6 separate regions of the Homo sapiens genome follow, and all the other regions are linked to region 6. The links come from fine-mapping of genetic effects on gene expression. A gene starts in region 6. Each other region holds a variant in brackets. All regions are shown on one strand. Distances are from middle to middle.

The links. PIP is the estimated chance that this variant, and not a neighbour inherited with it, causes the effect.
Region 1: its variant is fine-mapped to the expression of KCTD15 in whole blood (TOPMed, PIP 0.97).
Region 2: its variant is fine-mapped to the expression of KCTD15 in whole blood (TOPMed, PIP above 0.99).
Region 3: its variant is fine-mapped to the expression of KCTD15 in whole blood (TOPMed, PIP above 0.99).
Region 4: its variant is fine-mapped to the expression of KCTD15 in whole blood (INTERVAL, PIP above 0.99).
Region 5: its variant is fine-mapped to the expression of KCTD15 in whole blood (INTERVAL, PIP 0.96).

What each region holds. Positions count from the first base shown.
Region 1 is chr19:33,832,244-33,837,315 of GRCh38, reverse strand. No RefSeq gene overlaps it. Among named protein-coding and RNA genes, the nearest start is that of KCTD15, 38 kb to the right of the region's middle. The variant GT/T (reference allele first, on the strand shown) is at 2,155.
Region 2 is chr19:33,881,658-33,886,729 of GRCh38, reverse strand. No RefSeq gene overlaps it. Among named protein-coding and RNA genes, the nearest start is that of SUNO1, 21 kb to the left of the region's middle. The variant C/TGC (reference allele first, on the strand shown) is at 2,395.
Region 3 is chr19:34,039,440-34,044,511 of GRCh38, reverse strand. No RefSeq gene overlaps it. Among named protein-coding and RNA genes, the nearest start is that of LSM14A, 130 kb to the left of the region's middle. The variant C/T (reference allele first, on the strand shown) is at 1,972.
Region 4 is chr19:33,817,743-33,822,814 of GRCh38, reverse strand. No RefSeq gene overlaps it. Among named protein-coding and RNA genes, the nearest start is that of KCTD15, 23 kb to the right of the region's middle. RefSeq lists enhancers at 1,487-2,481, 2,360-2,559. The variant C/T (reference allele first, on the strand shown) is at 2,068.
Region 5 is chr19:33,852,792-33,857,863 of GRCh38, reverse strand. No RefSeq gene overlaps it. Among named protein-coding and RNA genes, the nearest start is that of SUNO1, 50 kb to the left of the region's middle. The variant ATTTATATT/T (reference allele first, on the strand shown) is at 2,823.
Region 6 is chr19:33,794,615-33,799,686 of GRCh38, reverse strand. KCTD15 (potassium channel tetramerization domain containing 15) reads right to left here and starts at 2,817. Exons shown (of 7, transcript NM_001129994.2): 1 at 2,700-2,817; 2 at 921-1,019. RefSeq lists a silencer at 4,119-4,238 and an enhancer at 4,884-5,072.

The sequences.
Region 1 (5,072 bases), 38 kb before region 6:
TCCCTTTTTTTCTTTTTTCAAAATTGCTTTGGCCAAGCTAGGTCTTGTATCTTTTCCTATAAATTTTATTATTTTATTTTATTTATTTATTTTTTTGAGACAAAGTCTCACTGCAGCATCCAGGCTGGAGTTCAGTGGTGCGATCTCGGCTTACCACAACCTCTACTTCCTGGGTTCAAACAATTCTCCTGCCTCAGCCTCCCGAGTAGCTGGGACTACAGGCATGCACCACCATGCCCAGCTAATTTTTGTATTTTTAGTAGAGACGGGGTTTCGCCATGTTGGCCAGGCTGGTCTCAAACTCCTGACCTCAAGTGATCTGCCTGCCTCGGCCTCCCAAAGTGCTGGAATTACAGGCATGAGCCATCGTGCCCGGCCTAAATTTTAGCATAAGCTTGTTATGTCTACAAAATTCTTGCTGAGAATTTGGTAAGAATTGCATTAAACCTATAGATCATTTAGAGAGACTTGACATTTTTACTATGTTAAGTCTTTTGATCCATGAATTTAGTATGTCTCTCCAACTATTTAGGTTTTCTTTTATTTCTTTCATTACCATTTTGTAATTTTCATCATACAGATTCTATACATGTTTTGTTAGGTTTACAGCTAAGGATTTGATTTTCTTTGGAGCAGTTTTAAGTGGTATTGTGTTTTTTATTTTGATTTCCACTTGTTTGCTGTCAGTATATAGAAATGCAATTGATTTTGTATGTTAATCTTGTATCCTGCAACCTTACTGAACTCACTGAACTTTTTAATTAGTTCTAGGAGTTTTTTGTAGATTCCTTGGGATTTTCCTTGTAGACAACATGTCATCTGCAAACAGAGACAGTTTTACTTTTTTCCATTCCAATTTGTATGCTTCTTTCTTTTCCTTGCCTTATTGCAGTGGCTAGAACTTCCAATATTATGTTCAATAAAAATGATAAGAGTGAACATTCTTATCTTGTTTCTGACCATAGGGGAAACCATGCAGTCTTTTGCTATGAAGTATGATGTAAGCTTTAGGTTTTTTGTAGATGCCCTTTATGAGGTTGAAGAAGTGTCCTTCAATTCCTAGCGTACCAAGAGTTGTTATCATGAATGGGTGCTGAATTTTTCAAATGCTTTGTCAAATGCATCAGTTGACATAATCATATGATTTTCTTCTTTAGCCTATTTATCTGGTGGATGACATTGATTGATTTTTGAATAGTGAACCAACCTTGCATACCTGTAAAAAATTCCACTTGGTTGTTGTGTATTATTCTTTTTATACATTGTTGAATTCAATTGCTAAAATTTTGTCGAGAATGTCTCTAAGTTCATAAGACATATTAGTCCGTAGTTTTCTTTTTTTTTCTCTTTTGAGACAGAGTCTCGCTCTGTTGCCCAGGCTGGAGTGTGGTGGTATGATCTCGGCTCACTGCAACCTCTGCCTCCTGGGCTCAAGCAATTCTCCTGCCTCAGCCTCCTGAGTAGCTGGGGTTACAGGCACAAGGCACCACACCTGGCTGATTTTTGTATTTTTTGTAGACACAGGGTTTCACCATGTTGGCCAGGCTAGTCTCAAACTCCCTACCTCAGGTGATCCGCCCACCTCAGCCTCCCACAATGCTGCGATTACAGGTGTGAGCAACCGCTCCCAGCCTTGTAGTTTTCTTTTTTGTCAAAATTTGGTATCAGGGTAATTCTGGCCTCAATAAAATGAGTTTGGAAGTGTTCACTCCTCTTCTGCTTTCTGAAAGACATTGTGCAAAATTGATGTTCATGAATCTTTTGAAACATTCATTTTTGAATGTTTGGTACAAGTCTCTAATGAAACATTCTGGTCATAGAGATTCCTTTTTCAGGAGTTTTATAATTATAAATTCAATTTCTTTAACAGTTATAGAATAATTCAGGTTATCTATTTCATCTTGGCCCAGTTTTGTGGTTTTTGAGGAATAACCTTATTTCTTCTAAGTTGTTGAATTTATGAGTGTAAAGTTATTTATAGTATCCCATTAGTATCTATTTAATGGCTGCAGGATCGATTGCAATATCATCCGTTTCAGTCTTGATATTGATGATGTGTGTCTTCTCCCTTTTTCTCTCTGTCAATCTTGCAAGAGTTTTATATATTTTGTTGATCTTTATGAAGAGCCAGATTTTGGTTTAATTTTCTCTATT[GT/T]TTTTTTAATTTTGTTGATTTCTGCTCTTGTGTTTATTGTTTCCTTCCTTCTACTTGCTTTGGGATTAATTTGCTCTTCTTTTTCTACGTTATTGAGAAGGAAGCTTAAATGATTGATTTGAGATTTTTTCCTTTTTTCTAACATAAGACTTAAATGTTCCAACCTCCTTCTGTTACCATCTTCTTTCTGTTTAGGGAGCTTCCTCTAAGGATAGATCCACTAACAACAATTCTCTTAGTTTTCCTTTGTGTGCAAATGACTTTATTTTCCCTTTATTCCTGAAGGATGATTTCACTGGATAGAGGATTTGCAGTGGGAGGTTCTTTTCTTTCAGCAGTTAAAAAATGTTGGGCTGGCCAGGCACAGTGGCTCATGCCTGTAATCCCAGGACTTTGGGAGGCCAAGGCAGGAGGATCTCCTGAGCCCAGGAGTTCGAGACCAGCCTGGGCAATATTGTTAGACCCTGTCTCCATAAAAACCTTAAAAAATTAGCAAAGCCTGGTGGCGTGCACCTGTAGTCCCAGCTACTTGGGAGGCTGAGGTCGGAGGATCACTTGATCCCAGAAGGCAGAGGCTGCAGTAAGCAAGATTGCACAACTGCACTCCAGCCTGGGTGACAAAGTGAGACCCTGTCTCAAAAAAAAAAAAAAAAAAAAAAAGTTGGGCCACTTCTTTCTGGCCTCCGTGGTTTCCGGTGGGAAATTCATTATCATTTGAATTGATATTCATTTATAGGGAACACATTGTTTGCCTGGCTAGTTTTAAGATTTTTGTCTTTGTTTTTAGTTTTCAGAATTTGATTATGATATATCTTGGGGTGGATTTCTTTTCGTATTTCTTTTAATACTTTTTTAGTCCACACTCTCTTTTCTCATTCTGGGATTTGGATTATATACAAAAACATTATATCTTTTGTTACTGCCCCACAGAACACTGAAGCTCTTTTTCCTTTTTTCAGTCTGTTTTCTTTCTGTTGTTTAGTTGGAGTACATCCTATTGATCTGTTGCAAGTTTATCGTTTCTATCTTGTGTCATCTCCTTTATACTATTGAGTCCATCTAGTACATTTTTAAAAATTTCAGTTATTGTATTTTTCAGTTTTATAAGATCCATTTGGTTCTTTGTTTAAATTACTGCTCTTTCTTTGCCGAGAATTTTAAACATTTTTTTTATTATAAGTGTTTTTTTCATTATAAGTGTTTGTTGAGGCATTTTTATGAGGCTGCTTTAAAATTCTTGTCAGGTAATTTCAACATCTGATTTATCTGGGTTTTGGAGGCAGTTTGTCTTTTCTCATTCGAACTGTGGTTCTTTGGGATGATGAGTGTTTTGCAATTGTATTCTGGACACTGGATATTATGTTAGCACACGCTTGATCCTATTTAAATCTGTTTTAGGGCTGCATGCGTTGTCTCACACCTATAATCCCAGAACTTTGGGAGGCTGAGGTGGGAGGATTACTTGAGCCCAGGAGTTTGAGACCAACCTGGGCAACATAGCGAGACCCTGTCTCTACAAATAATAATATGACAAAAATTAGCCAAGCATGGTGGTGTGCACCTGTGGTCTCAGCTACTCGGGAGGCTGAGGCAGGAGGATTACTTGAGCTAAGGGGGTTGAGGCTGCAGTGGGCTGTGATTGCACCACTGCACTGCAGCCTGATGACAGAACAAGTCTGCCTTTTTTAAAAAATTGTTTTTTAATATGTTTTAGCAGGCAGTCACTCTATTTAGCTTTAGTATATAGGTTCTGACATATATTTGTAGGCATTAGTTCCAGGGACAGTTTGGTCATCATCAGAACACTTTCTTTCTGGTTTTTTTTTTTTTTTTTTAGATGGAGTTTCACTCTTGTTGCCCAGGCTGGAGTGCAATGACGCAATCTCAGCTCACTGCAATCTCTGTCTCCCAGGTTCAAGCGATCCTCCTGCCTCAGCCTCCCAAGTAGCTGGGATTACAGTCATGCAGCACCACGCCTGGCTAATTTTGTATTTTTAGTAGAGACGGGGTTTCTCCATGTTGGTCAGGCTGGTCTTGAACTCCCGACCTCAGGTGATCCACCCACCTCAGCCTCCCAAAGTGCTGGGATTACAGGCGTGAGCCACCACGCCCGGCCCATCAGAACACTTTCAATGTGATTTGGAACTGCTTGATTCTTCTAGCACTGCTGGGGCTACTTCTAGCCCTGCCCCATCTCTGTCGATGTCATCGTTTAAGGCAGAAGGCACTTCCCTGAGCTGCTTGGTGTTTGCGGGCTACATTCTTCTGCTAAATGGTTTAGAGGGCCTGGGTCTTCTTATGCCACTGCATGGAGGGCAGGTAGACACAGAGCTAAGCTGACGCTGCCCCTGCAGGCTGTGATTGCAGGTGGGTCAGGCTGCCTGCCAGTGCTTCCGCTGTGGAGGGGGCATGGGACTCCCCACTAGGCGTCTTTCGGGTTTTCCTTAAGTTATTCTTTGTCCATTTGTCCAGAGAGAGCAAGATTTTGTTATCTTTTTTTTTTTAAGTGCTTAATGGAATTTCTAGGTTGTGGGAATCTTCAGCACCTGGTCTAGGGTATATGGAAGATTAAAAGAAGAAGACACGGCCAAGCATGGTGGCTCACGCCTGTAATTTCAGTACTTTGAGAGGCTGAGGCAGGTGGGTCACTTGAGGTTGGGGTTCGAGACCAGTCTGGCCAACAAGGTGAAACCCCGTCTCTACTAAAAATAAAAAGAAATTAGCCGGGTATGGTGGCATGTGCCTGTAATCTCAGCTACTCTGGAGGCTGAGGCAGGAGAATCGATTGCTTGAGCCCAGGAGGTGGAGGTTGCGGTGAGCCTAGATCACACCACTGCACTCCTGCTTGGGTAACAGAGTGAGACCCTGTCTCAAAAAAAGAAAAAGAAAAAAAAAGTTTCAGGGAACTCACTGCATT
Region 2 (5,072 bases), 87 kb before region 6:
TGGTCTTGAACATCTGACCTCAGGTGATCCATCCACTTCAGACTCCCAAAGTGCTGCGATTACAGGCATGAGTCACTGCACCTGGCTCGGATCGCTATTATTTAAATAAATAAATTTAAAAAAGGCAATAAGTGCTGGCAAGGATGTGGAGAAAAGAACACTGGTGCACTGTTGGTGGGAATGTAAATTGGTGCAGCCATCATGGAAACCAGTGTGAAGGTTACTGGAACAAATAAAAACAGAACTACTATATGATCCAGCAATGCTGAGTATCTCAAAAAGATACTTACACTCTCATGTCCATTGCAGCACAATTCACAATAGCCAAGATATGGAAACAACCTAACTGTCCATTGATGGATGAATGAATAAAGAAAATGTGGTGTATACACGATGGAATACAATTCAGCCTTAAAAAAGGAGATCCTGGCCGGGTGCGGAGGCTCATGCCTATAATCCCAGCACTTTGGGAGGCCAAGGCGGGCGGATCATGAGGTCAAGAGATCGAGACCATCCTGGCCAACATGGGAAACCCCGTCTCTATTAAAAATACAAAAATTAGCTCGGTGTGGTGGCGTGCGCCTGTAGTCCCAGCTACTTGGGAGGCTGAGGCAGGAGAATCACTTGAACCCAGGAGGTGGAGGTTGCAATGAGCTGAGATCACACCACTGCACTCCAGCCTGGCGTCAGAGCAAGACTCCGTCTCAAAAGCAATAGTCCCAGCTACTTGGGAAGCTGAGGATGGAGGATTGATTGAGCCCAGGAGGTTGAGGCTGCAATGAGCTGTGATTGTGCCACTGCACTCCAGCCTGGGTGACAAAAAAAGACCCTGGCTCTAAATAAATAAATAAATAAATAAAGGGAATGGGAGAATCTTTGGGAGGTGATGGATATATTTATGGCTTTGATAGTGGTGATGGTTTCATGGCTGTGTATAGTATCCCATCAAGTTGTATGCATCAGTATGTACAGCTTTTTATATGTCAATCATAGATCCATAAAGTGTTTTTTTTTTTTTAAAGACAAACTACTCAATTTTTTTTTTAGGGGCAAAGAATATGAACAGGCAATTCACAGAAGAGGTATGAAAAAGGACTTGTAAAATGTATTACCAAAAAAAAAAGTTTGACCCTACCAAATCTTAAGGGAAATACAAATTAAGCAACACTTGTCACCCATCACAAGGGCAGCAATTTAAAAGTCCGATAGGTACTAGCAGGCCTGTAAGGGCGCTGCTCCCAGAGGATGCTGGTGCCCCGTGTATCAGTACAGCTGCACTTTGGATGCCCTCAGAGCTAGAAATGTGCATACCGTGAAACCCAGCAATTTCCCTTCTGTGTTATCTACCCTCGAGAAATGTATATGTGCACAAAGAAAGCGTCTCTGAAGCAGCATTGGAAATAGCAGAAGCCTAAATGCCCATCAATATCAAAATGCCTCAGTAGATAGAAGCAGTTCACAGCATGGGGCTTTATACAAAAAATTTTTTTAAGTGACTTGGATCTGTGTGTATGCAAATAGATCTTTAAGAGGTATTGTTGAGTGAAAAAAAAATGCGTAGAACAGTATATATGTAAAAAAAGTAACCAAACTCATCAATAACATTTCGCATGCCTCGGCCGGGCACAGTGGCTCACGCCTGTAATCTGAGCACTTTGGGTGGCCGAGGTGGGCAGATCTCTTGAGGCCAGGAGTTCAAGACCAGCCTGGCCAACATGATGAAATCCCGTCTCTACTAAAAATACAAAAATTAGCTGGGCATGGTGGCGGGTGCCTGTCGTCCTAGCTAGTCAGGAGTCGGAGGCGGGAGAATCGCTTGAACCTGGGAGGTGGAGCTTGCAGTGAGCCGAGATCGTACCACTGCACCCCAGCCTGGGAGACAGAGCGAGACTCCGTCTCAAAAATAAAAATAAAAATAAAAAAATTCACATGCCATAGTTTTAATGAAGTCCAATGTATGTTGCAAAAACAGGAAACATTTCTGAAAAAAAAATTCCAAAGTCAGTGCTTCAGTGCTTACCTGTTGGGGAGCTGAAGTGGGTAGCCATGGATTTTTAGAGGTCCAAGGAGACTTTAGCGTCTCTGTAATGTTACAGGGTTTTTTGGAGGCAAACGGGTTAAAGTTCTCCATGTAAAATATAGGTTAGTTTTTGAAAGAGGGTTGGCTGGGTAAAGAGACTGCATCTAGGGGCTCTGGGCGTAATGCAAAGTGAAAAGCTGTGAGAATGGCTGGGAAGGAATGTTAGCGAAAGGTACTTTAAACAAACACCCTCTGGGCTTGCCCAGAGGGGAAACGGAGGAGAGTGAAAAACCCAGGAAGCCTGGAGGAGCAGGCGGGGAAGGGGAAAAGCCAAATTTGGGCCAGGCATTGGAGATTGCTTTGTCCTTGGTGTG[C/TGC]CTGACTTTTCGGCAGGCTGGGAACACGCGGAAATGCATTTCCTGGTGCTTAAGTTTCCAGCTGGGACAACAGAGGTTCTTCCCACAACCCCTCCTCCTCCCTTTAGCTAAGATCTGTTTACCCTAGTGCTCAGACAGGAAGTCTTTATTATTTTTGCATAGGGACCTAGAATGAAAAATCAGTGGTCCTGCCGCTGACTCCACTGAAGGCACCATCCGGAGGAAGTGGAGTGTGGTCCTGGGCATGCCTGCTCTGCCCAGGGCTGTGCAGCAGGGCAGGAGGTCTGTACCTTCCCACGGAAGCTGCGGGTCCTCAGGCTTACAGGGTTGATCTGCGATTGCAGCCGCCTGGCCAAGCCTCAGCCCTGGGCTCAGCATCCCTGCCCAGAGTTAGGCCTGTGCAAGATAACAGAGTGAAAGCAAACCTGTCTCCAAGGCTCCATGGCATGTGGGCTCTGGAGTCTGATCTGACTTCACATCCCGGCTCAGCCCTGAGGCCAGCATGTGTATCTTTGTGCAGCCTCAAATTTGCCATTGCAGTTGCTGGAGACTAAGCAAAATAATGTATATTGTAGAGCTCTCAGCTCCATGCATGGCATTCAGTAAGCAATGGTGCTAGTTAGTGATAATGATGCCAATAAAATACATCTCCTCTTGTCTTTTCAAGACCTTTATCAGAACAGCAAACCAGCTGGGTGTGGTGACTCACATCTGTAATCCCAGTGCTTTGGGAGGTCAAGGTGGGAGGATCGCTTGAGGCCAGGAGTTCCAGACCTGCCTGGGCAACATAGCGGAATCCTGTCTCAACAAAAAATTAAAAAAATTAGCAAGAGGTAGTGATGTGCACCTGTAGTCCTAACAGCTTAGGAGGCTGAAGTGGGAGGTTCTCTTGAGCCCAGGAGTTGGAGGCTGCAGTGAGCTGTGATTATACCACTATACTCCAGCCTGGGTGACACAGTGAGACCTCATCTCTTTGAGAGAGACAGAGAGAGAGAAGCAAACCATTTTATAATATGAATGTGGCTTCGAATAAACAAAATAATTTACCTTTAGCGTGATGTACGAGAAAAGCTCTAATTTAATTCAGTAACTCTCCCATCCTGGGTTTGTTGAAGTTTTATTGTTAATCTGTTTCCTAAATCTTTGTAAAGGTTTAGGAGGGAGACTTCAATGAACTTGGCTTGCCAATGGCCAGTAAAGAAGTTGTTTCTAGGGAGGCAGAGGCAGGAGGATAGCTTGAGCCCAGGAGTTTGAGACCTACCTGGGCAATATAGCAAGACCCTCTTCTCAAAAAATAAATAAATAAATAAATAGGCCGGGCGCGCTGGCTCACTCCTGTAATCCCAGCACTTTGGGAGGCCGAGGCAGGCGGATCACGAGATCACGAGGTCAGAAGATCGAGACCATCCTGGCTAACACGGTGAAACCCCGTTTCTACTAAAAATACAAAAAATTAGCTGAACGTGGTGGCAGGCGCCTGTAGTCCCAGCTACTCCGGAGGCTGAGGCAGGAGAATGGCATGAACCCGGGAGGCGGAGCTTGCAGTGAGCTGAGATCGTACCACTGCACTCCAGCCTGGGTGACAGAGTAAGACTCCATCTCAAAAAATAAAAATAAAAAATAAAAAATAAAAATAAATACATAAATAAAACAAAATAAAAGAAGTTGTCTCCTCCTCCCTAACAGAGGGGTGTTGAGAGAAGTGGCTCCTCCACAGCCATGTTAGCTGGTCCAGGCTGGAGCCTGGCGAAGCTGAAGCGGATGTCAGCAGGCATCTCTTCCCCAGGGCAAGGCCAGGACCAGGATGATGGCAGTGAAGCACTTGCCTGAGGGCAGGCTTTAAGGAGGTGCCCAATAACCCAGTAATAAATAGATACTATTTTAATGCAATATTTTAAAAATAAAAACTAATGCAAAAAAAAATCTAAGATGAACAAAATTTCACCATACTAGACCATACTTCTTGCTGCTCAGGCTATCTTCCTGACCCTGTCAGTTCTCAGGTTTCTAACATTACCTTTCCTGAGTTCTCTAGAGCTGGTCTCTCTCTGCCTAGGTCTACAGGAAGGGAGCTGGGAGGTAGGTTTTGTGGGGATGAGCTGGGAAAACTGTCTTTTTTTTTTTTTTTTTTTTTTGAGACGGAGTCTTACTCTGTCAGCCAGGCTGGAGTGCAGTGGTGTGATCTCAGCTCACTGCAACCTCCGCCTCCCAGGCTCAAATGATTTTCCTGCCTCAGCCTCCTGAGTAGCTGAGATTACAGGTGCACATCACCATGCCCAGCTAATTTTTTTGTATTTTTAGTAGAGACGGGGTTTCACCATGTGGGCCAAGCTGGTCTCAAACTGCTGACTTCAAACGATCCTCCTGCCTCTGCCTCCCAAAGTGCTGGGATTACAGGTGTGAGCTACCACTCCCAGCCCTTGGAAAGTCTTCTGGACACAATCTTGTGTGTGTGTGTGTGTGTGTGTGTGTGTGTGTGTGTGTGCACATGCGTTTTTTTATTTTTATTTTTTGATAACCTTTTTGAGACAATAAGAGATTTAAACAAAAGAAAACGTAGAAACAAGCGCTAGGAATACGAGGGTGTCTAGTAGAATAAACAGATTTGAAAATTGTTTTAGAGAAAGCTTTCTACTTTCCATTGTCTGATCTTTCAGAAAACACCCAAGGGTTTGCAA
Region 3 (5,072 bases), 240 kb before region 6:
CCAGCCTCCACCCATTACCTTATTCCAAAGCCACTTCTACAGCAGCACCCTACTTCTAGGTACCAGAATCTTTATTAGTTATCTATTTCTGCTGTGCTATAAAGGATTCAGCAGGTTTAGGTAGTCTGATTCTTCCACATTCCAAAGAAAGGTTTGGTCCTTTCCTGGCTACTGGGAGACAACCTCTAATCTCCTGGAATCTCCTGTCTGTTAACAATGTCTTTGTTTATCTGAGGCCTTGGGCCATGTAAGATAGTTCATGTTAACAATGTGATTGATGGCGGGGGCCTTGTACTACCCAGTATGATCTCAATCTCTGGAGGTGCTGGAGACTCGAGTCAGCCATGCAGGCAGTCAGCCATGCCTAGGTAACCAACCTTCAATAAAAGCCCTGGACAGAAAGGCTTCAGTGAGTTTCCCTGTTTGGTAATACTCTGTGGGAGCTGTCATTCATCATTGCTGGGAGAATTAAGTGCTGTCTACATGACTCCATGGTGAGAGAACAACTGGAAACTGATGCCTGGTCTCTCCTGATTCTTCCCTATGCATCTTTTTTCATTGATGATTTTAATCTGTATCTGCTCACTGTGATAAACTGTAACTGTGAGTGTAATGGCTCTGCTGAATTCTGCGAGTCCTTCTAGTGATCATTGAAGCTGAGAGTGGTGTTGGGAAATCCTTGAACACAGCTGCATAAAAAATTACCACAAACTTAGTGACTTAAAAGAAAACATGCATTTATTATCTCACAAGAGTCTGGGCACAGATTAACTGGGTCCTCTTCTTAGGGTCTCACAGGGCTGCCATCAAGGGATTAGCTTGACTGTGTTCTAATCTGGAGGCTCAACTGGGGAAGAAGGTGCTTTCAAGCTCACTCAGGTTGGTGATAGAACTCATTTCCTTGTGGTTGTGGGACTTAGAGTCCTGGCTTCTTGGTGGCTTTCAGCTCTTAGAGGTTGTCTTTAGCTTCTTGATAGATTGGCCTCCTATCCTGGCTGCTTATTTCTTCAGAACTATCTTGAGAGAGAGTGTTAGAGTGAGTTTGATAGCAAGATGGAGTCTTAATAGTATGTAATCTTGGGAGTGACATCCTATTGATTTTGCTGTATACAGTTGGTTAGAAGCAAGTCACAGCTTTGCTCACACTCAAGCAAACTATGTCCTCCTTCAAGGGGAGGAGTTTATTCAAGGATGTGAATACTCATCGTAGAGTGTGTTTACCACACAACTTCCCTATAAAGGGAAAGAGAGAAATGGGGGCAGTAATGAGAAGGGAAAGAAAGGCCAAAACTTTTTTTTTTTTTTTTTCTTTTTTTGGAGACAGGGAGTGGAGTGGAGTGGAGTGATGTGGTGCAATCACCACTCATTGCAGCCTCAAACTCCTGGGCTCAAGGGGTCCTCCCCCTTTAGCCTCCCGAGTAGCTGGGACTACAGGTGCATGCCACCATGTCCAGCTAATTTTTAATTTTTTTTTTTTTTTTGGTAGAGACAGCAGTCTCATTATGTTGCTCAGATAAGTCTTCAAGTCTTGGCCTCAGGTGATCCTCCTACCTTGGCCTCCCAAACTGCTGGGATTACAGGCATGAGCCACTGCACCTAGCCAAAACTTATTTTTTTTTTAACATGGGAAAAATTTGTGCTGATAGGAATGATTCACTAGAGAGGAAATCATGGATAAAATCCTGTTTTATGGGTCAGCCATTACAGTCTTTTAAATATTAAATGCAATTAAAACTCTTATTTTGTCTCTCATATATCACAAAATACATAATTTATGGGCCCCACTTTCCCCAAATATAAAATGTAGATGTTGACCAGGAGCGGTGACTCATACCTGTAATCCCAGCACTTTGGGAGGCCGAGGTGGGAGGATTGCTTGAGGCCAGGAGTTCCAGACCAGCATAGGCAACAAAGTGAGAACCTGTCTCTACAAAAAATAAAAAAAAATTCAGCTGAGCATGGTGGTGCATG[C/T]CATAGTCCTAGCTACTGAGGAGGCTGAGGTGGGAGGACCACTTGAGTCCCGGGAATTCAAGTCTGCAGTGAGTTATCATTGTGTCACTGCACTCCCGGCTGAGTGACCGAGAGAGACCCTATCTCAAAATATAAAATAAAATAAAAATCATGCTCACTGAAAGGGTTTCAGATAGACTTGGTATTTTTGGCTTCACTACTATTTTATTTGTAATTCTGGGATAGGCTCTGGGCCTCAGAACACCCTACAGTGGATATTGTTATGAAGACACACATGAAGATGTCCTGTCGATGGTGTGGCAATGAGTTTGTCTGAGATGGTGACACTGACGCACATTTTTCTGTCTCCCGGAATACATGTTTCTCAATCCTTAGCTTTTGAGTGGTTTTGCCTACAGAAAGGCCCCGGCGCAGTGCCCCCTGCTGGTGAGTGGCAGCCAGGCGCGTGCGTCATGTCAGTGATGGACACAGTGGGTCCCTTTGCTGACACGGACCTTGGGGGTGATGCTGAGCCTGCCAGGTTATTTCAGATCAGGTCATTAAAGCAACAGAAGGTCGACTCGATGTAAAACGAGCAGCTCCCAGTATTCTCTACATTTTTTAGACATGTGATGATTTGCTATAGCTCATTTTGGCTGATAAAATATGAACACTTCACAAAATATTTGTATTTCAGCCTCTGTCTTCATTCATTTAACAAGCCATTTTGCCCTAATTCCCAGGAGCTGTATTCTTCTTCCATTGGGAAACCTAACTTGAGCCTCGGCAGAGAAGATTTTAAACATGAAATAGGTTAGCAGTGTTAATTTAAAAAAAAATCAGAAAAGCATTTAAAACAAAAAAGCCCCTTTCTCTTTCACTTCAGTGAAATGAATTAGCATTCATTTGTGCAGGTTTCTCAATGGTGATGAGCATCTTAAAGAAAATTAATTAAAACTAAGAACAAGATTAGTGTTTAGATTATTATTTTAACCTTGGCCTCTGGTGAAGGTAGTAGTTTTGTAATGAATAATTATCCCCTTAATTTTGTTCCCGTCTAACTGCTTTGTATATATCTGGGGTGGGTATGTCATGACAGTGACATTTTTGGTAGCCTTTAATTCAGGAATGCAGTCCACACACTTCAGGATTTTAGTGTCTTAGGTTCACGGGCAGGTGGCTTCTCTACTTTGGCATTTCCACGAGGCAGGAAGGAAACCAGGAGAATGTGTATCCTCAAACCCAAGTGAACCAGGCATACCCAGAAGGAGGAAGAGCTCTGTTGAGTGAGCTGTGAGAATCAACCATTGTGGAGGTCATGGTTAACTTGTTGGGAGCAGTTTCTGTGGAAGGATGGGACAAAAGTCTGATTAGAATGGGTTTACAAGAGAATGGGCTTTTCCAGGTGCCCATCAGTGGTGGGCTGGATAAAGAAAATGAGGTGGCTCACGCCTGTAATCCCAGCACTTTGGGAGGCCGAGTCGGGTGGATCACGAGGTCAGGAGATCGAGACCATCCTGGCTAACACGGTGAAACCCTGTCTCTACTAAAAATACAAAAAAAAAAAAAAAAAAAAAATTAGCCGGGCTTAGTGATGGGCGCCTGTAGCCCCAGCTACTTGGGAGGCTGAGGCGGGAGAATGGTGTGAACCCGGGAGGCGGAGCTTGCAGTGAGCTGGGATCATGCCACCGCACTCCAGCCTGCACGACAGAGGGAGACTCCGTCTCAAAACAAAAAACAAAAAACAAACAAACAAAAAGAAAATGTGGTACATATACACCATGGAATACCATGCAGCATAAAAAAAATGATGATATCATGCCCTTTGCAGCAACATGGAGGCAGCTGGAGGACATTATCCTAAGCCAACTGACAAAGAAAGAGAAAACCAAATACTGCCTGTTCTCACTTATAAGTGGGAGCTAAGCATTTGGTACACATGGACATAAAGATGGGAAAAATAGACAATGCAAACTAATAGAGAGGGGAGAGAGGTGGTGAGGCAAGGGCTGAGAAACTACCTATTGGGTACCCTACTTACTACATGGATGACGGGACCATTCATACCTCAAACTGTAGCATCATGGAAGACTTGTAACAAACCTGCACGTGCACCCCTTGATTCTAAAATAAAAGCCTTGCTTATTTCTTTCTCTTTCCCACTTCTTCCGTTTCTTTCTCTTCCTGAACAAATCCTTTTAAAAGTCATTAGGTGGGACCAAGCAAGGTGGACATCCATACAGAGCAGCAGGGAAGCCCTACCATCCTGAAGCAGGTGAGGAGGGTATCCACATGGGAGGGGTGGGGATGGCCTAGCCTGGGCTGTCAGAGATAGCCAGGGTGAGGTTTGGTGGCTGATGCAGAGCATTGGAACCTGAGTCGGATAAGAAGGCCTCCCTGCTGAAGGCCGGCCCAGCTTGGAGCATCGGAGCATTGGAGTGTGGAAAGCATTTGTGTAGGATGACAGCCCAGTGTGGGGTGTCTGATCATGAGTGGGGTAAAGAAGTGCTCCGCATAAGAGGGCAGCCCTATGTGAGGCATCAGACATCTCCCAGGTGAGAGCATCCATGCAGCGGGTATCAGAATTCAAGCAAGAGGTCAGGCTCTGTGGCTCACGCCTGTAATCCCAGCACTTTGGGAGGCTGAGGCGGGTGGATCACTTGAGGTCAGGAGTTCGTGACCAGCCTGGCCAACATGGTGAAACCCTGTCTGTACTAAAAATACAAAAATTAGCTGGGAGTGGTGGCGGGCACCTGGAGTCCTAGCTACTCGGGAGGCTGAAGTGGGAGAATCACTTGAGCCTGGGAGGCAGAGGTTGCAGTGAGCCAAGATTGTGCCACTGCATTCCAGCCTGGGTGACAGAGTGAGAATCTACCTCAAAAAAAAAAAAAAATTCAAGCAAGGTGAGGCAGGCATCCACCTAGGAGCGCTGCCTGGCATGGGGTGTTGGAGTTCTACCATGGTGGGTGGCCTGGTATGCGGGGTGGGGGTGTTAGATCCTGGACAGAGTGAATATGGGGGTGGAAGTGCTACCTGGCATGGTGTGTCAAAATATGAGTGGCAGAAGGATGGCTGGGGGCTGGGCATGGGCATGGTGGCTTCCACCTGTAATCCCCACATTT
Region 4 (5,072 bases), 23 kb before region 6:
TGGCAAAGGGGTTTAAGATTGCCAATGGAATTAAGGTGAATTAGTAGACCTTAAAATAGGGAGATTATCTGCAGGGTGGAGGGTGGGCAATGGAATCACTAGAGTCCAGAAAAACAAGGGTGAGGGGATCTAAAGATGCTACACTTCTGGTTTTGGGGATGAAGGAAGGGACCACAAGCTACAGAATGAAGGCAGCCTCTAGAAGCTGGAAAGGACAAGGAAAGATTCTCCCCTAGAGCTCCAGAAAGGAGAGCAGCTCTGTTGACACCTTGATTTTAGCCCAGTGTGACCCATGTCAGACTTCTGACATCTGGAACTGTAAGATGAAAATATATCATCTTAAAATCAGTGTTGGGCTAGGCATGGTGGCTCACACCTGTTATCCCAGCACTTTGAGAGGCCAAGGTGGGAGGATCGCTTGAGTCCAGGAGTTCAAGACCAGCCTGGGCATCATAGGGAGACCTGTCTCTACAAAAAGAAAAAGAAAAAAAAATAGTATTTTTCTAAGCCACATTAGTGGTAACTTGTCATAGCCACAAGAGGAAACCAATACACTGATCTCTGTTCTTAATCCAGGAGCACAGGCTCTGGAGCCAGTTGAGGCTGCTTTTTGGCTCTTCCTTAGGGAGAGAGCTTGCACCTTCTTTTTCTGTGTAAATGAAACTATTAAATATTGTTTCTTCCTGGGGAGGGTGGGAAGTGGGTGGTGTTAGATGTCAGGGTTTGGAGAGCTGGTGATTCATGGGACACTCACGACTCAGAGCCTGGCCTCCAGTAACCAGGCTGATTGTAGACACTCAGTAGATATTTGTGGAAGGATAAATGTATTTCATCAACTGATGTTCCATAATCGATTTCATCTCTCCTGGTTTTAGGACACTAAGGGGCCCCCTTCCTTTCTTTGCCAATAGTAAATACAATTTGAGAATCTGTGCATACAGGGGTGCTTTTGTTTTTGTTTTGAAATTAGTTTTCTGGCTGGGTGCCGTGGTTCACACCTGTAATCTCAGCACTTTGGGAAGCCAAGGAGGGTAGATCACTTGAGGTCAGGAGTTCAAGACCAGCCTGTCCAACATGGTGAAACCCCATCTGTACTAAAAACACAAAAATTCATGCTCACTTCAGCAGCACATATACTAAAAACACAAAAATTAACTAGGCGTGGTTGTGGGCGCCTGTAATCCCAGCTACTCGGGAGGCTGAGGCAGGAGAATCACTTGAACCTGGGAGGTGGAGGTTGCAGTGAGCCAAGATCACACCAATGCACTCCAGCCTGGGTGGCAGAGCAAGACTCCATCTCAAAAATAAATAAATAAATAAATAAATAAATAAATAAATAAATAAATAAAATAATTAGTCTTCTATTTCTTCAAAGCAAGAGCCTCGCCAGGCTGCAAGGCTGGTGCTCTCCACACATGTAGTGTGTATGGTAGTCAGCTGCCTTCTGTGCAGGGCTGCTCACTCACCCGGCAGCTGGGCACTCCTTGGCACAGGAGCCCCCCACGTGGCTAGCCAGGCTGGGGCTGGAAGGTGGGAGTGGAGAGGAGGCAAACTAGAGGCTGTGTGGGAAGGTGCTTTGATGAATTCCCTCCCTGGGCTGGGCTTCTACACGGGTTCCTCCACCTGGGCATGGGAACTGGGGGAGGCTAAAGGGAGGGAGAAGGAGGAGTGCCAGTGGTGGTGCCGGAAGCCTCTCCCTGATGCAAGAGAAGCCTTGAGGCCAGTTCAGCAACTCAGAGCGGTGCTGGCCAGGGCGAGAGCATCGAAACCTCCCTCCCTCCCTCCTGATGCGCGTTCAGGATCTGCAGTCCGGAGGCTGCACACCACAACCTATGCAGGGCAGTGTGGGTTTCCCCAGACGTCTGGGGAGGTGGGAGAGCCTGGGCCTTGAGAGGGCAGGGAACTGAGGAAGCAAAAAAGCAGCTGCAGCCTTCTGCAGCCCGCTCTCCAGGTGGCACCCAAGCCCACCTCTGTGCTCCTGGGAGCTTGGTGCCCCTAAAACCCTCAAGGTTGCAACTCAGAGAGGATTGGGAAGCAAAGCCAGCAGGAGAACAAAGGATGCTTTGC[C/T]GGAAAGGGAGGCACCTTCCACGAAGGCCTCCGGGGCCTGGGGAAGTGACTCACTGGGCCCGGGGATGGACCCACCCATGGGGGCTCCGCGGGCCCACAATAGACCCATAGGATAGGAAAGGCACTGTCAGCCTCCGGCCTCTGGCGGGCGCCTCCCAGCCCACCCCCGCGAGATCTGGTCTGCGTCCAGCCCGGGGCCCCTGGGGATAGGCCCTGTTCTCGTTAGGCTCTGCCAGTCGGGACCGCCACCGCCGCTGCTGCCACCTGGGGCTGTGGGCGCGGCCCCTTCCGCCAGCCCTCCCTCCCCTTGGCCCTGCGGGGACCCGGGCTCCCCAGTTCTCGGCAGAGCCACACTACTCCTCTGCCAGAGCGAGGCCATCGATGTCACCCGAAGGTGGCGTCAGGCTCTGTCCCGAGGCTCCCCGGAGGCCTGTGATGGGGACTTGGAGAGAGCCCTCGTTGCGAGCCCCGGCTTCCCGGGCAGTTGCACAACCTCCCCCAATTATGCTCCGTGCAGTGTGTGGCAACCGGGCGAGAATTCCAGGGCCTTGTACCTACTCGTACCAATCTGCCTTCCCGCTGTTTGGCTGCAGGGCCAGGCGTGGCTCTGTGGGCCCGGGGAAATGGGGGTGTGTCCGCGTCCAGGAGGGCGTGGCCCGCGTCAGCCCCGGGAGCAGCAGCCCGGCCCTGCTGGTGCAATCGGCTCGCCCCAAACCGCAGCTTCCTCGGGGGCCCTGAACCGGGTCCAGGACACAGAAAAGGGAGCTCTGGTGACATCCTAGACACGGGCTTTGAGCAGCAGGCCTGGCCCAGCTACGGCTGGTGACGCCGTCCAGCCAGGGATGCGCGGCCTGGGTTCTCCCGCGGGCAGGACGGGAGGCCTCCCGGGCCCCAGCGTGGCTTGGGCGTCCCTGCCCCTCCCAGGCTCTGCTTTTTAAGACTTTGGCCTGGTTTGTGATTTCTGTGTTAAGAAGGATCCTAGGAGGAGGCCCTGAAGACCTAGCTCTTATTCCACGGCCATGGCTCCGGGTCCAGGAACAGCATTGTCCTGTGGGGCCTGGGCGCTGTCGGGACTGGCTGTTCTGTGTAATGGAAATAAAGACAAAACCCCAAATGCAGCTGACCCCTAACCCCTCTCCTTTGTGTGTCCCCGGGAGTGTGCCTGCCTCTTTCTCTGGGTCTCTCATTAGAATTTCACAGAAGCTTCCTTTGCTATGGAGACGCTAGTCTTGAGGCCTGAGAGGTGGTTCTCTCTACATGCAAATCAATGCATTTGGGGTAATCCATGTTCAGTGTCATGACGAAGTGGAAAACTGCAATGTGGTCTCTCTTCCTGTTAAATTTACAGAGCTTCAAGTACACAATTGAAAGTAAACAATTCCTGGCTGGGCGCAATGGCTCACACCTGTAATCCCAGCATTTTGGGAGGCCAAGGTGGGAGGATCACTTGAGGCCAGGAGTTCAAGACCAGCCTGGCCAACAAAGCAAAACCCCGCCTCTACTAAAAATACAGTAATTAGCTGGGCGTGGTGGTGCACACCTGTAATCCCAGCTACTCGGGAGACTGAGGCACAAGAATCGCTTGAACCCAGGAGGCAGAGGTTGCAGTAAGCCAAGACTGCACCACTGCACTCCAGCCTGGGCAACGGAGTGAGACCCTGTCTCACAAAAAAAAAAAAAAAGGAGAAGAAAAAAAGTGAACAATTCCTGTGCATAAACAAATGTCTGCTCCAAGCCTCATGAGCTATCTTGCCCTCCCAAGCACCTGCAGTGCTTGGCATATGCTGGCCACCAATAAGTGGTGCTCTTGGGTGGTTGTGAAGATAAGGATCTTTGCAGGGAAGCAGGGACCCTTTAAAAATCAACATCCAAAGCCTCAACAGATACATCAGCGCCCCTTTCCAAATCATGACTTTTCCTCAAAAAGCAAAAACTCTACTCAACATATCCTTCCACTGGGGGTGGAGATAAAAACACAGAAAGTTCTCTTTCCCTGAGGGTAAACAGCTACCAACAGTCAGTCATGCCTGGATGCACAACCTCAGGGGTGGGCCCCTCCTGGATGCACAACCTCAGGGGTGGGCCCCTCCCCAGGAACGAGCCCCCAACTCTGCCTGCAGTTCCTAGGTCTGCAGAGGTCACCATGGGCCTGGCAGGGCTCTGCTTGTCTAGCTTTGGGGCTTGCAGGAAGAGAGCTCCTGAACCAGATCCAGGGATTAGCCTGGGATGTGGCGGGGTAGGCTTCTCTGGGGCTGGGGTTTCCCTTCCAATGAAAGCTCACAGAGAAATGTCCCTGGGCTTACAGAGGCCATGGCTGCGAGAACTCGCTGGTTGTGAGATCCAGAAAGAGCAGAGACGCGCTCTTCTTTTCTGACTTTCAACCTTCCCTGGGGTTGTGTTCCATTTGGGTCACCTTAGAAAACTCTGGTGCTTCTAAGAGAACATCAGCGCTAGTCTTGGTGCTGGCAGGAAGCTGCCCTTAGCTGTCACCAACACTTTTTTCTTTCTGTTAGTCCACAAAGCATTACCTTACCTCACCGGTCCTCCAGAGAACATCGGGGCTGCCTAGAATGTGGTGACAGGAGTGAACTCTTAATGGAAAGGGGTTCTGGAGGGAATGTTTCTGTGCCTCTCTGCCCTAGTTGGTGAATTTAGCAGTTTAACCTAAATACAGTTGTTCCTGGATAGACCTTCCTCCAAGCAGGTGCTCTAGACCATCTTTTGTCTCGGGCTTTATGTTGGACGTTAGAGCTTTATCTTTGTGATGCCTTTGTAGGTTTCTCTGGATACTGACAAGAAACTTCATTTGATCTAATGAGAAACTTCTCACTAATAAAGGCAGGAGCTGCTTTTGACACATATGCATTAATATCATCTTTCTATTCTTACCATTTTTTTTTCCTGTTTTTGAGAAGGAGTCTCACTCTGTCACCCAGGCTGGAGTGCAGTGGTGAGACTTCGGCTCACTGCAACCTCTGCCTCCCAGGTTCAAGCGATTCTCCTGC
Region 5 (5,072 bases), 58 kb before region 6:
ACCATGTTGGCCAGGGTGGTCTTGAACTTCTGACCTCAGGTGATCCACCTGCCTTGATCTCCCAAAGTGCTGAGATTATAGGTGTGAGCCACCGTGCCCAGCCTGTGGGTTGTTTTTTAATATTGAGGTTGGTGTCTTCTGATATGCAGAAGTTGTAAATTTTAATGTAGTAGAATTCTCTTTGTCTTTTGTGGTTTATAGTTTTTATATCTTATTCAAAAAGAACTTTCTCTACCCCCAATGGCATAAAAATATTTTTTCTTTCTTTTTTCTTTAATTCCAACTTATTGAGGCATAATTTTTACAAAATAAAATGCACCCATGCATTTTGACAAATGTATACAACCATGTAACCACCCTCCACCCAAAAAAGACATAGAACGTTTCCACACCTATAGCTGCTTTCCTGCTCCTGCCTAGTAGATAACCTGCCTTCCTAGCCCCTGCTCTAGGCAGTGACCAATCTGCTTTTTGTCACTATTTCTATTTCATATCAACAGAATAGTACAGCACATACTCTTGTATCTGGCTTCTTTTGCCCGGCATCATGCTGCTTTTTTTTTTTTTTTTTTTAGTTCTAGGGTACATGTGCAGGTTTGTTACATGGTAAACCTGTACCATGTTTACCTACATGGTTTGCCACGGTGGTTTGCTGCACCCAGCATCATACTTTTGAGGCATCATTTTGTTTTGTTTTTTTGATTTTTGAGATGGAGTCTTGTTCTGTTGCCCAGGCTGGAGTGCAGTATTGTGATCTCAGCTCACTGCAACCTCTGCTTCCTGGGTTCAAGTAATTCTCCTGCCTCAGCCTCCCGAGTAGCTAAGATTACAGGTATGCACCACCATGCCTGGCTCATTTTTTTTGTTTGTTTTTTGTTTTTTTAGTAGAGATGGGGTTTTTGCCAAGTTGGCCAGGCTGGTCTCGAACTCCTGGCCTCAAGTGATCCGCCCACCCCGGCCTCCCAAAGTGCTGGGATTACAGGCATGAGCCACCTCTGCTGGCTGAGGCATCATTTTGAGAGATCACTTATGCTTTTGAGAATCAGCCATGCCATTGCACATACCAGCAGTTTATCCTCTTTTGTGCTGAATAGTGTTCTGTTGTATGGATACACCACAATTTGTGTTTTCACTTATCTGTCGTTTGGATTGTTTCCAGTTTTTGGTTTTTATGAGTAAAGCTGCTATGAACATTTGTGTACAAGTCTCGGTATGGGTATATGTTTTTCTTTCTCTTGGGTAAATATCTAAGTGTGGAATCTCTGGGTCATGTGATGAGTGTATTTTTTTTTTCTCCTGTTCAACTTTATTTTTATTTTTTTATTTCAATAGGTTTTGTGGGGAACAGGTGGTGTTTGGTTACATGCATAAGTTCTTTCGTGGTGATTTCTGAGATTTTGGTGCACCCATCACCCGAGCAGTGTACACTGTATTTAATGTATAGTATTTTATCCCTCACCCACTACCCTTTCCTCTGAGTCCCAAAAGTCCATTGTATCATTTTTATGCCTTTGCATCCTCATAGCTTAGCTCCCACTTATGAGTAAGAACATACAATGTTTGGTTTTCCATTCCGGAGTTATTTCACTTAGAATAACGGTCTCCAATTCCATCCAGGTTGCTGCCAATGCCATTATTTCATTCCTTTTTATGGCTGAGTAGCGTTCCATGGTATATATATATCACATTTTCTTTATCGAGTGTACGTTTAATATTATAACAACTGCTAAACTGTTTGCAAAGGAGCTGAGCGATTTTACACTTCCTCCAGCCAGGGATTCGAGCTCTAGCTCCTCCACCAGAGCTCAGAATATCTGTCTTTTTCGTTTTAGCCCATTTTAGTAGGGATGCTTATTGATATCTTATTGTAGTTTTAATTAATATTTTCCTAATGACTAATCATGTGGAGCATTTTTCATGTGCTTCTTAGCCCGTGAAATGTCTGTTCAAATCTTTCGTCCATTTTAAAATTCAGTTGTCTTCTTCTTATTGAATCTTTTGTAAGATATTATACAAGTCTTTCTGTAAGAGCTGTGTATTGACAATATTGTCTTATACCCTTTGTCTTGACTTTATTTATTTATTTATTTAGACAGGGCCTCTCTCTGTCACGCAGGCTGGAGTGCAGTGGTGTGATCCTGGCTCCTCACTGCAACCTCCACCCTCCAAGGCTCAAACAATTCTCTCACCTCACCCCCCCCAAGTAGCTGGGATGACAGACATGCACCACCATGCCTGGGTAATTTTTTGCATTTTTAGTAGAGACAGAGTCTTACCATGTTGCCCATGCCGGTCTTAAATCCTGACTTCAAGACTTTATTTTTAAAGTGCCTTTCAGAAAGCAGTTTTTTTTATTTTGATGAAGGAAAAAAATTGTCAAGTTTTTCCTTTAAGATTAGTGCTTTTATGTCTTGTTTAAGACATCTTTGCCTATCCCAAGCTCACAAAGATTGTCTCCTCTATTCACTTATAGAAGTTTCTTAATGTTGTATTTTGCATTTAAGTCTACTACTCTATTTCAAGTTAATTTTTGTGTAAGGTGAGACATAAAGGTTGAGGTTCACTTTTGCCTATGGATGTCCAAGTGTCTGGGACTATTTTCTATGAAGACTTTCATTTTCTTGATGCTAAATAACCTTAGCACCTGTGTCAAAAATCAAGTAACCTGGCCGGGCGTGATCCTCCCACCTCAGCCCCCTGAGTAGCTGAGACCACAGGCACACACCACCATGCCTGGCTAATATTTTGTATTTTTGGTAGCGATGGGGTCTTGCCATGTTGTTCAAAACTATATATATATATATATATATATATATATATAT[ATTTATATT/T]TATATTTATATAGAGAGATATATATCTCAGGGGGCTGAGGCGGAAGGATCGCTTGAGCCTGGGGGCGGAGGATTCAGTGAGCCAAGATCGCACCACTGCACTCCAGCCTGGGTGAAAGAGCAAGACCCTGTTTATATATACATATGGAAAGATCAACAATTTGACTTCTTATTTTCCAATTTGGATGCCTTCTGTTTCTTTCTCTTGTCTGATTACTCTGGCTAGGACTTCCAGTACTATGTTGAATAGGAGTGGTGAAAAAAGGCATCCTTGTGTTGTTTCAGTTCTTAGGGGAAAGGCTTTTACCTTTTCTCCATTCATTATGATGTTAGCTGTGGTTTTGTCATATATGGCCTTTATTATATTGAGCTATATTCCTTCTATACTTAGTTTATTGAGTGTTTTTATCAAATGCTTTTTCTGTATCTATTGAGATGATCATATGGGTTTTTTTGTCCCTCATTCTGTTGATATGATGTATCACATTTTTTGATTTGTGTATGTTGAATGATCCTTGCATCCCTGGGATTAATTTTCATGTATTTGCATAGTTTTCAAAGTTCCACTTGATCATGGTGTTTTTTGTTTGTTTGTTTTCGTTTTGTTTTTGTTTTTGTTTTTTAAGACGAAGTCTAGCTCTGTCACCCAGACTGGAGTTCAGTGACGCAATCTCAGCTCACTGCAACCTCCGCCTCCCCGGTTCAAGCGATTCTCCTGCCTCAGCCTGCCAAGTAGCTGGGACTACAGGTGCCTACTACCATGCCCGGCTAATTTTTCATGGTGTATTTTTTTGTTTGTTTGTTTGTTTAAGATAGAGTGTCACTCTGTCACCCAGGCTGGAGTGCAATGGTGCGATCTCAGCTTACTGCAACCTCTGCCTCCTGGATTCAAGCGATTCTGCCTCAGCCTCCCGAGTAGCTGGGATTACAGGGGCCCGCTACCACGCCCAGCTAATTTTTGTATTTTTAGTAGAGATGGGGGGGTTTCACCATCTTGGCCAGGCTGGTCTTGAACTCCTGACCTCAGGTGATCCTCCCACCTCAGCCTCCCAAAGTGCTGAGATTACAGGCATGAGCCACTGCACCCGGCCCTATTTTTTTTTTTTTCATGTGCTGCTGGATTTGGTTTGCTAGTATTTTGTTCAGAATTTTTGCAATCGTGTTCATCAGGGATATTGGCCTGTAGTTTTCTTTTGTTGTTGTGTCTTTGTCTGGTTTTGGTATCAAGGTAATTTTGGTCTCATAGAATGAGTAGGGAGAATTCCTTACTCTTCAATTTTTTTGATTAGTTTGAGGAGAATTGATATTAGTCCTTCTTTGGAATCTTGGTAGAATTTGGCAGTGAAGCCATCCTGTCTTGGACTTTTAATTATTGATTCAATCTCATTACTCATTATTGGCCTGTTCAGGTTTTCTGTTGCTTCCTGATTCCATCTTGGTAGGTAGTACGTGTCCTGGATTTATCCATTTACTCTAGGTTTTCTAGTTTGTTAGTGTGTAGACGTTCATCATAGTCTCTCACGATCTTTTGTATTTCTGTAGTATGAGTTGTAATGTCTCCTTTTTTATTTTTTATTTTGTTTACTTGGGCCTTCTCTCTTTTTTTCCTGTTTAGTCTAGCAAGTGGTTTATCAATTTTGTTTATCTTTTCAAAAAACCAACTTTTCATTTATTTATCCTTTGTAATTTTTAAGTCTCTATTTCATTTAGTTCTGCTCTGATTTTTATTATTTATTTTCTTCTGTTAATTCTGGGTTTGGTTTGTTCTTGATTTTCTAGTTCCTTGAAGTACATCATTAAATTATTTATTTTAAATTTCTCTACTTTTTGATGTAGGCATTTATTGCTATAAAATTCTCTCTTAGCACTGTTTTTGCTATATCTCAAAGGTTTTGATATGTTCTGTTTTGATTTTCATTTATTTCATAAATTTTTTAAATCTCCTCTTTATTTCTTTCTTGACCCAATGGTCATTCAAGAGTATGTCATTTAATTTCCATGTATTTGTACAGTTTTCAAAGTTTCTCTTGTTATTGATTTCTAGTTTTATTTCATTGTGATCTGAGAAGATACTTGATATAATTTTAATCTTTAAAAATTTATTGAGACTTGTTTTGTGTTCTAACATATGGTCTATCCTGGAGAATGTTTCGTGTACTGATGAGAAGACTGTGTATTCTGCAGCTGTTGGATGAAATGTTCTATAAATTTCTGTTATGTCCATTTGGTCTAATGTGCAGTT
Region 6 (5,072 bases):
GGAGGAAGCACAGAGCAAGCAGATCAGCCAATGGACCCTTTCTACTGCTCCTCCCCAGAGGCACTCAGTAACTCTCCTCTGTGCCGTAGTCACCTGAAATAAGATTGTCCCTCAGTCCCTGGAAGCCACACCCAGGGGCGCTTTGCAGGCCCTATGCAGGAGGGGCAGAATTCTGCAGCCCCGTTCACTGATTTACAGCTGTCTCAAAAGGGAGGAAAGAGGAGATTTGCACGTGAATAGTCACCCCCCTTCACACATCCACAGACACTGGCTTCCACAAACCTACCCTGGACGTCTCTCGAAGGTTTAACCTTTAAGAGAGAAACCACTTGAAATTCTTGGGACCCATGGGATTGCTTTTTCCCATTAAAACTCTGGGATCAAAATTTGTGCCTTGAAATTCAATATCCAATTTTAATCCAACCAGAATCAAATCCTGCAAATGTAAGCAAGGTTGCTCTCCCTGAGTGCCCGGGCAAGTTTCCTGACATAAAACTGGGGTGGGAGGTTGCAATGGGCAGACAGTGATGTTTAATATATACCCTCACTGGGGCCTGTGGACTCAGAATCCACTGCTTTTGGCATTCCTGAGTTCTACAAGCTTAAAAAAACAAAACCAGGTCACTTAGCTCAAGGAGTTCTGAGAACCAAAACAGACCTCAGGAATGGATTATCCTGCCCTAGGAGGCTCTGCTGGGGGAGGAGTCAGAAGGGAAGACGCGCTGAGGATAAACTGAACAGGAAGGAATTCTGGCTGAAATTCTATCAAAGCGGACTGCAAGATGTTTTCCCCAATACCAGGACACTATTCCAAAGTGACGTGAACACCAAGCCTCCATCACAGAAGCCGCTCCACTCTGTTCTTAGCCCCTTTTCCCTCCCAAGAACAACCTGATGTTCATGGCAAGCCAGAAACTTACCGTTGGAAGCCCCAGGCTTTACGCCTTGCCGTGAATCTCCAAGGTTTCTCCCAACAAGCGCATCCGTGCGGGACCACGACCCTCTTTCCGAGACCACTGCTTAAGTCAGAAGCACAAAAGTGGGTGCAGTGAGAGATACAAGTTCATTCCACCAGCACCAGCATCAAACCCAGCACCCAGCCCCAGTGCGCCCTGGCCCGCCTGTTGCAGGGGCCTCAGCGATAGCGGTCGGGAGGGCCCACAGGTTTCCAAACTGGCCCGGTAGTGACCCGCTTCTCCAGCTGCGGCGGGAGACCCGGGTCCCTGCCCGCCCGCCGCCGAGCCCCGCCCGCCCGAGCAGAGAGAAGTGAGCAGAATGCCACGCTCATTTACACACAAAATGATTTTGTGTCCCATTGCGCTCGCAGTTGTTCGGCTCTCTGGGGGTGATTAAACTGGCTGAGCTGCGGCAGCTTGAGACGATTTCACTAAATCGCTTCTTCTGAAGTCGCTTCTTTGCTAAGCTGTTATTTTAACCATAAAAGGTAAACAGAAGGCGCCTCTCGAGCTCCCCTCGGCTCCGCACTCAGGGCGCTGGCCCGGGGCGAAAGTCCTGGGGGCCTGCACAATTGTCCCAGGGGTGGCCCCGGAGAGGCAGGCGGGCCACCTGGTGCGCGCCAGCCTCCCCACCCCCCCCCTCCCGCCTCCGCCGCGGAGCCAGCCGGCCGGTGTGAACTTAGGGGCGACGGGAGAGGGCTTGGGCCAAGGCTGGAGGCGCCGCGGGGCGGGGTGGCCGCGGCACCCGAAGCGCGGGGCTGGGCTGGGAGGGGTTGCCGCGGAGGCGGGGCGGGGACAAAGTTAAATCAAGAGGCAGACACTTGGAGACCACAGATGGGAAGCTCGCCTAATTAAGGACGTAAAAGCGCTTTTGTTCTCAAAGTTTATTGTTGCCGGGATTAAAAAAAAATTAATTGAAACTAATGCTGTTATTCACTCGTGCAGTTAAATTCCTTCATGCACATTTGAGATACGGAGCGAAAACTTGAAGCTTATCTTTCTGCAGTCGCGGGTGGGGGCCGCCGGAAGACAGAAAGGCGCTGCAGAGGCGGGGGTCCGCCCCCGGGTGTGTTTGCGAGTGTGTGCCGGGTGCGCGCGTCCAGGTCAGGGGGTGCGGGCGGGCAGCGGGGAACCGGATCTGCAGGCGGCGATCCCTCCCATCGCGGCCCCTCTCCCAGCCCCAAACCCTGCGCGCCCGGGACCACCACCAGCGCGACAGCCCCTCCTGCCAGGTTTCGGACTCGTGGGGTGGGCGTCAGAGGACGCACATCTGTCCCACTGGAGACTTTCTCTGATTTTGGGCGCCAAGCCGGGACTTGTGCATCCCGAAGCCCCAGTTGCGTGAGCCCGTTTCTGACCCCGGAAACTCGCCAGCTCTGCAGGGCGCTCGGCCCAGAACAGGGGCCAGAGTGCGGGGACCTCCACAAGCGCGCGCGCGCGCGCGCGCACACACACACACACACACACACACACACACACACACCGCGCGGCAGGAAGCTCCGAGACCGCCCGCGTGGGGAGGGTCCACCCGCGGCCAGGACCAGCCCACGTGGGCAACCCCACTCTTGCACCAGGCCTTTGTGCTGGGCACCCCCGCGCCGCCAGCCCCCGCCGCCCAGCAGAGGGACAAAGCGGCCGCCCCCGCCCAGGTCCAGACCCTGGCCGGGCGACTTTCTCGGTATCGCAGCCACTTCGGGGCAGGGTTGCGCGGCTCTGAGCGGTGGCCGCCCGCGCTGAGCTTACCTCGGAGCCGGCAGATCGGGCTCGGGCGCAGCCCCCGCCCCACGCAGCTGCCGGTCTCGGGCGCCGGGCGCAGCTTCGCCGCCTATGCTCGCTGCGCGGGTCGCTCCGGTCTCGTCCTGGAGTTACTTTCTCTCTCGCCCCCAACCCTCCCCCCACCCACCCCTCCCGCCCCGGCCCCCGCTTCACGCGGCCCCTCGCGGCGCGGCGCGCCGGGGCCTCCCCTCCCCACCCTCCCCTCGCCTCCTCCCCTCTTCGCGGCCGCCGCCTCCGCCGCCGCCGCCTCCTCCTCGCGCCGCTCTCCGGCTGCCCTCCCGCCGCTCCCACCTCCTCTCCTCCCTCCTCTCTCTCCGGCGGCCTCCCTCGATTGCTGGAGAGAAAACCAGCCCCCCACTCCAGCCCCTAGCCAGCGCCTCGCCGCGGCCCAGCCCGGACGTAAAGGGCAGCGATCCGGCCCCAAATTACCCAGCGCGAACGGGCGCGCGCGGCGACTCCTGGCTCGGGGCTCGGCTGCGCCGCGGGGCAGAGGATTAGAGTCGCAATTAGCTCCGCGCGCCCGCGCCTGGCGACAAAAACGCGCCGTTTCCCCTCCTTTCGCCGGGCGATCCCCACCCGCCTCTCCCGAAGCCCGCGCCTTCCCGCCGGGGCCGCGGCCAGGACCCTCCCGGGAGCGGTGCGCCCAGGCCCCAGCGCCCTCCGCGGCCCAGCCCCCCGCCCCCCGCCGGCCGGCCACGCGGCGCCCGGGCCTCCTCCGGGCTCGGGGAGGGGGCGGGGGAGAGGCTGATTTTAATCATTGTCATTTCATCTGATGTAATATTTCCCCGGGCGCTTTCAGCTGGGCATAAATTTTCGGCTCCCAAATAAGTAACACAGGGCACGTTTCTCACATTTCTTGACTCCTCGGTTACAAAGAGGAGAGCAGCCGCCGCCGCGGCGCCCGGGGCTGGGGGCGGGACTTGGGAAGAAACTGGGCTGCCAGTCGGTCGGGGCTGGAGCGGAGCCGGGGGCCAGGCCGCCCCTCCCCCGCTCCCTGGCCGCCCTCCCAGGGTCTCTGCCCCGCTGCCCCTCTCCCGTGACGTCTGCGGACACGCGGTCGGCCGCCGCGGGGGAGGGACGCGCTGGGGCACCGGGCCGACCGCTCGCGGCTAGACGCGCCATTTCCTTTACGCGCGCGGCGCGATGGAGACGGCGGCAGCCAAGACTCCCCGCGGCCGAGGTCCGCGCCCCGGACGCCCCTCCCCAGTCTCCGCTTCGGCCGCCCCTTCCTCCTTTTCTCCCACTCCCACTCCTCCTCCCCTTCCTCTTCCTCCTGTTTCCTTTGCGCCCCGCCCGTGCCTCCTCCTCCTCCTCGGCGACCATTTCCCGGCTCCTAGGAAACGGAGCGCGCGACTGGCCGGCACTGCGCCCCCGCCTGGCTCCAGGGACGCCCGGGCCGGAGACCGGCTGGGACCGCGGGGCGGGTGCGCACGGGCCGGAACGGCGCCTGGGTCCCGACCGCCGGCTCCGGCCGGGCCTGGACGCCCCCTAGCGGCCGCACTCCCGGGGTGGGGGGCGCTCGGGGTCGGCCTGGAGCTGGGGTGAGGGGGACTCGGGGTGCCAGTGGGAGGAAGGTGAAGTGGGGGGGGCTTTCTCCCTCTACTAGAGGACCTCGCGCGCGTGGAGAGAGCGTCCAGACAGCGCTTCCGTAACTTCTTTACGCGGGAATCAGCCGAAACTTTCCTCCTAAGGGAAGGTTTTATTTATTTATTTATTTTCGAGTTCGAACTACAGGAAAAAGGGGGAAATTTTCTCATTAAAGTTACATCCCTGCAGTTAGTTCAATTATTTGATATATGCAGAAGATGTTGTAAATTTATAGATTTAAATAGCTTACAAAGATGCCGCAGGCCCCATCAGTTAATTTCCTTAATTTATGGATTTTGAGCTGCTCCTGGAACAGAAAGAAGCCCTGGAAGTAGGTCAGGGATCTGTGCAGGGGTTGGGAGGGGCTCCCGCGAGGCCCAAGGGCTGCCCACTCTGCTCCCTACGCCCCGGTACCTCCGGGCTTCCAGCTCCCAGCTTCGGCTCAGCAGCGCGCTCTCTGCGCGTTCGGCACGCTGGCCAGGCCCGGCCCGGCCCGAGAGGTCAGCCCAGCTTTGTGGCCGACTGTCCCAAGCACGACATAGGAACAGCAAAGCCCTCCATCAATGCACATCCCACTCAGCATTGAGGGACCAGACACAAATAGAAAGTGAAGCAAGTATTCAAATACTTTGATCTCCTGTATCCACCCTTAAATGCTGGCTAGAATCACAATCGGACGAGGTTGTGTGTGTGGGTGCCCCCAACTTCATGGACAGAAACGTCCTCCCCCGCCCCAGGCCTTTGTGGAGGGTG